Regions from separate parts of the Homo sapiens genome. Here region 1 is linked to region 2. A link means that fine-mapping ties the variant in region 2 to the expression of a gene that starts in the linked region. Tissue or cell type: whole blood. Region 2 holds a variant in brackets; the other region holds the start of a gene. Each region is shown on its reference strand, or each on the opposite one.

Region 1 (5,374 bases), not on the chromosome of region 2:
TCTGTCACCCATATGATGTGCTTGACTTCTGGCTGCAGGACTTGGGGTTGGTTTCTCTGGGCCTGGAGACTTGTCTTAGGAACCTGGCCAGTCCTTTCAGACCGACTGGAATGGGGCCTTGCCTTGTTCTTGAGAGATTCACCATTCCTACTCCCCATCCTATGCCACACCAGGAACTGGGGTTGCTGTGGCACATGTCCTGCCCTCCTGGTGCCTATTAGGCTGCCTTTGACCACCTTCTCTGAAGCTAAATGCTCACCTGAGCCGCAAGCCACATCATCTCTGGATGCTACGCGCCACCTGCCTGCCTGAACATCATCCTCCACAGCACCTGCCCCATGGCAGCAGGTCAGGGGCCCAGGTCCCTGCCTCCCTGACGCTCCTCCCAGGGAGTCTCATCTTGTCACAATTTGCCTTTTAGTGAGTTAGAACCTGAATTTAGTAACTCAAAGTGTCAAGGAATGAGGAGGGCAAAGGATGACAAGGATTAACAATATATTTATAATATAAAACAATAACCACAGGCTTGAGATGAGAAGGATTCTAATGACAACATAGTCTACCCTCTTATTTAGAGGGAAAAAAAACAAGGGAAGGGGCCAGGGGTGGTGGCTTATACCTGCAATCCCAGCACTTTGGGAGGCCAAGGCGGGCAGATCACTTGAGGTCAGGAGTTCAAGACCAGCCTGGCCAACATGATAAAACCCCGTCTCTACTAAAAATACAAAAATTAGCTGGGCATGGTGGTGGGCACCTGTAGTCCCAGTTACTTGGGAGGCTGAGACACAAGAATCACTTGAACCCGAGAGGCCAAGGTTGCAGTGAGCCGATAGTGCCACTGCACTCCAGCTTGAGCAACAGAGTGAGACCCTGTCTCAAACAAAACAAAAAACAAGGGAAGGGAAAATGCTCTACTTAATTTTATTATTTGGGGGTTGGGCATAAAATATGAGAAAAGGAAGACCTAAAGGTGAAAAAATGGCCAGTATCCATAAAAGAAAAGGAGTGGCTGTCTGTGCTTCAGGTAGCTGACCATTTTTTATTTTTAGAACATCCTATCTTTCTTAAAAAAAAAAACCCAAGTTTTTAATATTTTAAAATTTTCTTTTAACAAATGCTTATATACTAGAAAAGTTATGGGCTGTGGGAATGAAACCTGCAAAAACAGTGTCTTTAATACTGAAAATAGGGTCAAGAATATTGGCTTAAAATATTAATGACATTTTTCCATTTTTAAAACGAAAGGAGTTGAAGTTGTTCAGGCACTGAATGTACCTACTTGTAGGTGAGACATACTAGATGGCCTGTGAAGACTTATAAAATTAATTAAGGTATGAATTCCATAATTCTTAAGCCATCAAGCCCGCTATTACAGGAATAAAACACTGGAAGCTACAAAAATTAATTCTGGTTTTATACACTCAGATTCAACATTGTTTAAAATATTTCTAATTAAAAAATAAGTTAGCATCAAGTATGTTGAAAATGCTGGAAGAAGAGGCCAAGTCCCTGGAGTGGGAAGGACATGCCTTCCTGTGGGGAAGCGCAGTAGTGTGGAAGGGGGAAAGGGATGGTTTTCAGCTGATTTATCTCAGACTTCCCACCCAGTTTGGTTTCCGCTCCCTGCAGAGCTGTCAAGAGGATATCTCCTTGGAATGCCTCCTCCCCAGGGGCCCCCACTCCTCAAGAACCCATGAGCCCTGGCAATAGGCGGGGGTGGGGAGGGTAGGTCTAAGGGGTGGTAGCTGGCCTAGGATAACTCACCTGGGGGCAGTATGTTCAGAGAGACTCTGTGCAAAATCTGGGGCCCCCTGGCCCCATCCACCATGCAGCCATACTCGCCAGCATCCTCTTCCTGCAGGGTAACCATTTCCACCTGCAGCAGGCCCCCACCCAGGTCTGTGAGAAACGTACGCCTGCCCGCTGGAGCTCTGCGATCCACAGCTGAGGACACCAGGGGCTGGCACCCCTCCGGCAAGAACCGGCACCACACCTTCTGAGCTTTGACATCCTGGAGCCTGTAGTGGCACTGCACCAGAATGGAGCTTCCCACGGGTGCCTGCAGCACCTCAGGGAGGCTGCCAACTATGCCCTGACCTGGGGAAGGAAAGGAGGTGGGAATTTTGGGCAGGAGCTGGGAGCATCTCCCAGCCCAGCTGCTGGTATGGGTGTGGCATTCACAATAACACGTTACTCCTGGACATGGGGCTGAGCATATGGGGCCCAGAGCTGCAGCTCCTCCTGAACCTTACCTTCTAGTCCCAGGAGCAGCAGCAAGAGCAGGGTGAGGCCCATGGCTGGGCAGAGAAATGTCAACTCCTGGGCTTGCCTGGGCACTGATGCAGCATTCGCCTGAGGGCAGGAAACATCTGCCTCAGAAAGTCACTTGGGGTGGGAGAAAGGAAATGATGGGCACCTCCAGGGGTGGGGAAAGGGAGTTCTTCCAAGCCCTGGTTGGCTCAGTGCTCAGGAACTGCCCTGAGGGTAAGGGTGGGCAAGACAGGATGAGAAGACCCGAAGAAAGCTAGAAGCCTGCAGGGGCTGGGGCCCGGCTAAGGGGTGAGATGGGAGGATTGTGACAATTGGAGGACAGGAGAGGAAGAGGAAAGATGATCTTCAGGATCTTCCTAATACAGAATCTGAGGGTGCACAGCTATGAAGGAGGAAGGTAGAGTGCCCTGCACCTCACTCAATGCCATTCTTGCTCTCAATTCTTTGGGAGTGCCCCACGACCACCCAAGCTTTTAGGAGGTTGTATGCAGTACAACCTCAAACAGGAAGTTTCACCTTGATCCTGTGCCCTGGACTGGGTCTTTCTTCATTTATTGTCCTGGACACTATAGAACCCTTCCATCTGGATCCACATTCTTCAGTTCTGGGAAACAAATTCTTACTTTGATAATTACATGTCCATTTTCTTCTCCCCTTCCATTTTTCTGCAATTCCTTAACTAGTTGGTTATTGAATGTCGTGTGTTCATCTCATTTTCATATCTTTTCTATCTCATTTTCCATCTTTTTGTCTCTTTTGTTCTGCCTTCAAGGAGATTTCCTCATTTTCTTCCATCCTTCTATTTTTGTCTTTTAAAATGTTATTTTTTAATATTTTTAATTTACAAGACAAGATATTCCTTATTCTTTGAGCATTTTTAAATTCTGGCATACTATTTTTGTTTCATGAATGCTCTATCTTCTCTGTTGGAAGACAATTCTTCACAAATATTTTCACATTGCTGCATGTTCTAGTCCTTCTGTGCAAAGGGTATTGGCCAAGTTTTGCTGAAGGGTGATTGAATAGCAAACATACCTTGAGTGCAACGTCCAGAGATTTGCTCGCATTCTTCCTCTTCTTCACCGGAGATTTACATTCCAGAGTAAACGTTTCTCTCTCTCTCTCTCTCTCTCTCTCTCTCTTCCAGAGAGGAAGATATACCAGATTCTCTATATAAACTCCAAGTCTCCTAATTTGGGGGTTTCTCTCCTGTGATCCAAACTCACTGCCTGCACAGGAGGCACCTGGCTCTCATTCATGTTGCCCTGTGGAATTGGGCTCGAGGAACTGGGACAAAGTGTGAGTAATAAACCTAATAAACTATCTGACCTCAGACACAGGGGAAGCACCAGTGGTCAGAGAGACTACAGCAGCTGGGGATGGGTGGGAGGGGCGTATTGCCCTAATCTGGAGGGTAAGACCTAGAAAAGGGCCTGGAAAGGCCATTCTCCCTCACTCCCATCTCCTCCCGTCTCACCTTTTTTCCTCTTTTTCCTTCCTTCCTTTGGGAACAAGGGAGTGAGGAATGGGAAACTGGGAGCAGGAGCATGAGAAAATCAGTTAATGTGTTAAGCTGGGCCTTGTGGAAGTGGGAGATTGGGTGACCAACTTCCCGTTTTTGCTTGGGATTGAGGGGTTTCTTGGGACTTTCTGTGCAAAAACTGAAAAAGTCCTGAACAAACCAGGACGGGTCACCCTAGTTGGTGATGTGCTTATGTCTGTCTTGCCAATGCATATCAGGCTTTCTTTGATTTCCTTATAAGAAAGTTATTTTCATACTAACAAGCCACCCAGGCGTGTTGTGTGAAGAGGTGAACTGTATTCAACACTGGACTAAGTGTTGAATATGGTCCACTGCTGGGTGCTGAGACAGAGGTGACCAGGCAAGATCCTGGCCTTCATGGAGACATCATGTTGCTGGGCGTTAGATGAAGGAAACCAGTGTTTATTGAGGACCTACTATGTGCCAGTCACCTGGCCAAGGACCTTCACAATGTTATTTCTTTCTTTTTTTTTTTTCTTTTGAGACAGTCTCACTCTGTCACCCAGGCGGGAGTGCAGTGGCGCAATCTTGGCTCACTGCAACCTTGGCCTCCTAGATTCAAGCAATTCTCTGCCTCAGCCTCCCAAGTAGCTGGGACTATAGGCATGCACCACATGCCTGACTAATTTTTGTCTTTCTTTTTTTTTTAGTAGAGACAGGGTTTTGCCATGTTGGCCAGGCTGGTCTTGAATTCCTGGCCTCAAGTAATCCACCCCACTCAGCCTCCCAAGGTGCTGGGATTACAGGCGTGAGCCACCATGTCTGGCCACGAATGTTATTTCTTTCAACCTCACAAAAACCTTGCAAAGTAGGGGAAGTGGTTGTTTTGTTTATTTGTTTCTACAAGCGAGGGCACTGGGTTTTAGAGGGATTGAGGAGCTTGCCTAAGGTGTCTTAATAGGAGGCAGAGTTGAAATTTGAGGCCAAATGGCCTCACTTCCCTTCAGTCCAGAGTGCTCGCAGAGAGTCTGAGGCAGGAGAGCCTGTGGTGATTCCAGTCCAGAGAGGAATGTCTCTGACATGGCAGAGAAGGAAAGAGAAAAGGCCAAGCTCCCATGAGGAGGAAAGCCTGATTCTGGGCTGGGGCTGATGGCAGCCACTGCCCTGGAGCACGAGGCAGGCCGCGGGGAGCCTCCCAGGCCATTTCATCGGCACTGGTGCCCACAACTGGGGCAGGAGGTAGGTGGAGAAGGCGCAGTTTGGGCTCGGCTCATTCTTGGTGCTACCTGTGCCCTAGATCTATAGGAAGGGGGCAATGCCCCAGGACACAATGAGGAAGTTTAATGTGCCCCTGAGCCAGGGAGGCCATGGGAACACAGGTTGGACCAGAATCCCAAGGCTCCAGGACAGGGAGCCAGTGGAGCAGCTTACATTGGGAGTGGACAAGGCAGGGTTGGGGCACAGCTGGGACCAGGGGAGTGACATGTTGAAGTGAGGCTGGAACATGAGGGCCATGCCAGGGGCTCCATCCTAGTGATTTAAACCTTAGGTGCCCAAGCGCAGGTTAGGTGGCAAGGCAGCCATGTGAGCTATGGCCACAGGGGATCCTGGGCATCCACT
Region 2 (5,374 bases):
ACCCTGACGCTCATAGAGGCCATTCCTTCCTGGGTGTCGGACCAGGGCTCTGTGTCAGGGAAAACCTTCTGGGTGGACTTTGTAAGAATCCAGTTTCCAAGGTTAGATTCACATCCTTAATCTTGCAGAGACTAGAATTTCACAGCTCGCTTTGGAACATATTCCAATTCAACCAGTTAAAATCAGAGGACCAAGTCGTGGGGGAGGGGGGCGGTGTTGAGGAGAGGTATTTTTAAAGATCTGGCAACTTTTCAGGATTATTTGTGGAGAACTCTAAGGTTAAGATCAGGAAATAAAAGACTGTGTGTGTGTGTGTGTGTGCGTGTGTGTGTTCAAGTGCCTAAATCTTGTTTACCTATCACTTTAAAAAAATAATTGAAGTGTAAGCTAAATAAAATGCTTGGAGTTTTGCCTGGGCTAGTGAGAGTTGGTGCAAATTCTTGTGTGTGTTTGCATAGGAAGGTGAGATGACCATCTACTAAAGAGGAAGTAGCTAAATACAGATCTGTGGGTGTTTTTAAAAAAACTCAACCTATCTGGTGTTTTATTTTAATGGATAAAAATGTAATTTTTCTAAGGTAGCAACTTATTTCCAAATTAATATAGATGAAAAATAGATACCAATTAGACTAAATTGAAAGCTTTTTGTTCTATATTTGCATAGCCTTTGAAATATTTCTTAGTGCCTAGGAGGTCTGGGGATTCCTCTTTCGTGGTGGTCACTAACCTTACTTGATGCAGATAAAATCACTTGTCAATGCAAAATGTGTTAGAACTTGATAAAGCTTTGAGTTTGAGAAATAAAGGTATATTTAAAATTTAAATAAAACTTGTCATTTATGCTCATTGATTTGTTTCTTCTCAATGATGAATTTTAGGTTTTAGGAAACATTGAATAGAAATAGGAAGCTGTCAACATCAGCCTTGGATGCTTCTCTGAAGGACAGATGCTTTTTTGAGGGGGGAGGGCTGTGTGGTTACCTTGGAGACCACAAATCCCTTAATATTTGGGCTCTTTTTCAAGGTGCCCAGCTAACTTAAACTAGGCTTCGTTGTTGACCACAGCCTTTCAGCTAATACCCACGGCAGGTGTAGTCTTGCAGTTCGCCTTTGCTGGCACCTTGTTTAATTCAGTCCCTTTAGCTCCTAGCCCACTTCAACAACAACAAAGAAAACAACTTCAGCCATACATGTACAACTACTGTAGTTTCTTCACATTTTTAAAGAAGTATAGAAGTGAACAAGTGATACTTGGAGTGGTTGATAGATGTTTGAAGGGTATAAAGAGATGCTGTAGACTTTGGTTAGCAACCTTCCTCCTCATTCCTTTGATCTAATTCACAACAACCCCTGCCCACCCCAAGTCTTGCCCCTTCCGTGGCCTCCCTTCTTTGTGGAATTTCTTTGAAATCCTATGGCATTCTCCTAACTGTCCTCATGAAACTTATGTCTTTGGCTGTGTAAAATCCTTCATCCCCTTGCCTCCACCTGTCCCTGCTCCTCCTCAAACCTTTCAGCCAAGGATGTGCATGCTCTGGAGTCTGGTAGGTGTGGAGTCCTTCCAATCACTTCTTTGGCATGTTTACTCAATAAGTAACCCTCACTCCTCTTAAGCCCTGACTGCCAGCTCACACTCTCCATGTTGCCTCTTCACTCCTCCCTTCATTCTGCCCATCCACATCCATGTCAGTGGCCTCTTTAGCTTTATGATGGACTACCTCTGTTCTAGTCATCTACTCACATCGGTTAGACACTGTCTGGATCTAGAACTGTTCATGAAGGCTGGGGTGACATTCTTCTCTTTTCACTACAAGAATTGGGATCATTGAAGAGCAATTTTCTGATCTTATGCTTGCCCATCAGCCATCCCCACGATCTTCTTCCTCCCCATTTTTACTGCGTGTACCTTCTGAAATGTTCCTTGACTCTGCCCTCTTGGTTGCCTTCAGCTCTTGCTTGGGCTATTTCATGAGTCTTGTCTCTATTTTTCTTGACTCTGTCAAGGGCTTTTTCTAAAACAGATGTGCCTGGGCCCCTCCCATACATTAAAACCTGTGTAAGACCCTACTGTGCAAGAGCAGATGTCAGACTCAACATGTCTGTGCAAGAGCAGATGTCTGGAGCTAGCTAGCCCCAGTCTACCTTCCTATCCTTTGACCTACTATACTAAGCTGGCCTACTTGGAGTTCTGGAGCACACAGCTTCTTCCGTGCACGTGACCCCACAGCAGGCTTCTAAAATCTCAGCTAATCCTCACCTCCTCTGGCTTACCAGGCCCTATGTCTGCCACCTCCCCCTTCCTGCTTTTTCTATTCGTGTTCTTACTGGGTTGCATCAGCTCTTCACCCACATTGTGAACACCTGCGTGCTTC[A/G]TTCTCTGCCCACTTTTCACATAACTGGCATAGATTTGGTGCTTCAAATGTTGAACTGGATGGGTTTTCCCTGGAGGACTTGTCCTTGGGCCATTAGCCACTTAGAGGCTGAATCCTGGATATTTACCTGAATGTGTTGTAATGCCTCATTTTGGTGCCAGAAACCATTTCAGTCCCCTTGTCCAGACCAATATTTATACGCAGGACAACTTGTGTGGGATGTGCTGGTGCCCAGCTTCCTGGAATGAGTAGTCATGTCCCGGACACTAACACAATTGAACACAAGCTCTTGGCCCCTGAGCAAGGTCAGTACTAAGGGTTGCAGTCTTCACGCTCAGCAGTATTATTTCAAACTCCCCACCCACCCAGTCCTCCTGGCAGACCTATCCTTCTGGTGTTTTAGTAGAATTCCTCTCATGCCATCCCCAAGTGTTCATTCCTCAGCCTTGGAATGAAGCTCCCGTCGTTGCCACCCGGGACCTCTAGGGTTCCAGAAGTACACTTCTAAACGAGCGGGGATTCTTTTTCTCCTTCACTGTCCGAGTAGTCGCCTGGGCGGGATAGTAATGCGCTTGGTTGTAATCTGGGGTTAGTATCAGCTGGAAGATGCTGAGAGCATCAGCAGGACCTGTGGGGGTTTTCCATATGACCTCTGAGCAGCCAGAGCCTCAGTGTGATGGTGCCATTCTGCCACCTTACCTTGGCCTGGAGCCTCATCCTCTCCAGAGGCCTTCAGCTCCGTATGCACTTATGGCAGGTGGAGTCAGAGGCAAGTCAGGGGTGGTGCCCAGACTGGGCTGAGTGGTCTACCCCTGCTCCCTGCCTAAAAGCTGAGTCAAGCGACTTCCTGTCCGAAGTGACGGCATTGGACCTGGGGCCACGGTGCTGGTTTCCTGCCTCCTGGCCCTGTGCCTTCTGCAACACGGGACTGTGTCCTTCCCTGGGGATAAATGCTACCTAGAAGCATGTGCTGCCCTGGCGGTGAGCCACTCCTCAGTACTCTGACTGTCATCACTCTCTCAAGCAGGTTTCTGTCAGTGCCGCCCAGAATCTAGGGAGCTGGAGCCTGTCGGGAGGCTTGGTTTCATACCATTCCTCACCCAGCTCAGAGCAACGCAGGCTACCTGTTCTGGCCATGACTGGATCACAGGTCTCCCAGCTCAGGGCATTTTCACCACAGCAGGCCATCCCAGGGCCACCTTTTACTTAGGAAGTTTCCGAAAATGGGAAATGTCCCTAAGGGAAAGGCATGAGAAGCTGGAGTCGCTGCCTTTCTTTCGGGTGCTTCCCTGGAAAAAAGGTATCCGAGGCTATAGTGTTCGAGAGAGAGAGAGATGGAGACGGGCAGCACCACAGCAACTTTGGCCAGGCTGTTTTCAGCCATTTCAATCCATCCCTTCCATATGGATAGTAAATGAGGTTTTTCTCAAGAGGCCTGTTGGGAACTAAACCCATGAGAAAATGGAATGAGAACTCCTCACTTTAGACTAAGGCTTTAGGTTGACCAAGTACACATTGCATATACATAGCTTGCAGGTCTCAGAAACGTGAGCTAGGTAGCAGTGTTTCCACTGTACACAGGAGCCAGAGGCTCAGTGCGCCTCTGAGTTGCCCAGGGTTACGTATCTTGTAAGAGACAGAGCCCATGCACAAAGATTTGACTGCAAAGCCTGGTTCCCCCACTATTACAACACTGAAAACACTCTGTAAACTATAACTCACCCTGCAAATATTAGTTTTTATGTCAGCCCCCTCTCAAGGGCCTAAGAGGTGTTGAGTTGCCTGGTAATAGATCCGTTTCCACTTATCCAGGAAAGGAATTCCTTGGACAAACCAGCAGCTTTCCTCAGACAACCCTCCCTTTGTGAATCAGGTGTGGGGGGACCCATTGCAGGCTCGTTAACATGTTTGGGGAATGCTCATGGAGCACCAGGTCCCATGCTAAGCATTAGCATTTAATCTTCCAAAAAGTCTGAGATAGGATGATTAGGTTTACAGGTGAGGAAACCTAAACGTCATACAGCTGCTGCAGCCAGCACCTGGCTCTGGGGTGTCTGACTCCCAGGCTCCAGCTGTCAGTTCTTTTACAGTATGCTATTTTGTCTTTGTCCTGCATTTTACAGGGTGGCACATGGAAGAGGCACGGGAGAGCAAATATCCTGCCTTCCAACAGAAGCCTTTCAAGAGGAATGAGGAGGAGGACAAAGCCACTGATTAAATTGATTAGTTAAAATTAAAAATTAAGCCAACTGATGAAGTTAAAATAGGGTGCCTATTGTGGTTGGCATGGCATTTTAAATTAGAATTGAAATGGAAACAGCATCACAGTTTCCCCCACACCTTATCCAGGCAGCCATGTACTATGGGGGTATTTAAACTACCTGCAGGCTGGAGAGGAGGGCGGGGGAGTGCAGGAGGGCTTTTGCAGAAGTCAGGAAACCAGCTCACCTGCAATGCTGAAACAATGAAACCAAGAAGGGAGGGGAGTCAGAAAACTAATAGCACAACCCTAAGCAGTTCCTGGAGTCAAACACCTGTGGTTTTTCATGCACTAAATATAGTGGAAGTTGGGTCATCTTATCCTTAAATAAACACTACAGCTAGCAAAGACTTTTTTGAAAAGAATCTTTACATTGGCTCAGGTAAGCGGGAGCCTGGGAGAAGCAGCGCTTGGGTGGCTGTGAATGGTCTGCGGCAGCCTCTGGTCCTCATATCCCCTGCTATCTCAGGATCCCACACAAAACATTCCTCTGTGGTTTTTTCCCTGCTCTTAAGTCAACTGCATGTACCTTGTTGTCCCTGTGCCCTTCATCCCCTCCCCCTACCGTGAGAGATCAGTTTCCTTGGCCTTCACCTGATCTGACCAGGAACAGCAGGAGAGGTGCTCCCTCTCTCTCTCTAGCTCTGGCAAAAGAGGCAGCTTTTCAGCAGGCTTATTTTCCATCCTACTTTAGATATTACTGAAAGGAAATGAACTCTTCTTTGACTTTGCCTTTTGAATT

The links.
Region 1: it holds the start of TREML1, and the variant in region 2 is fine-mapped to the expression of TREML1 in whole blood (TOPMed, PIP 0.94).

The regions. Positions count from the first base shown.
Region 1 is chr6:41,151,994-41,157,367 of GRCh38, forward strand. It overlaps TREML1 (triggering receptor expressed on myeloid cells like 1), which reads right to left and starts at 2,354. Exons shown (of 6, transcript NM_178174.4): 1 at 2,253-2,354; 2 at 1,765-2,097. The coding sequence starts at 2,295.
Region 2 is chr1:117,627,544-117,632,917 of GRCh38, forward strand. It overlaps TENT5C (terminal nucleotidyltransferase 5C), which reads left to right. Exons shown (of 2, transcript NM_017709.4): 2 at 1-846. Among named protein-coding and RNA genes, the nearest start is that of TENT5C, 24 kb to the left of the region's middle. RefSeq lists enhancers at 2,765-3,315, 3,316-3,866. The variant A/G (reference allele first, on the strand shown) is at 2,373.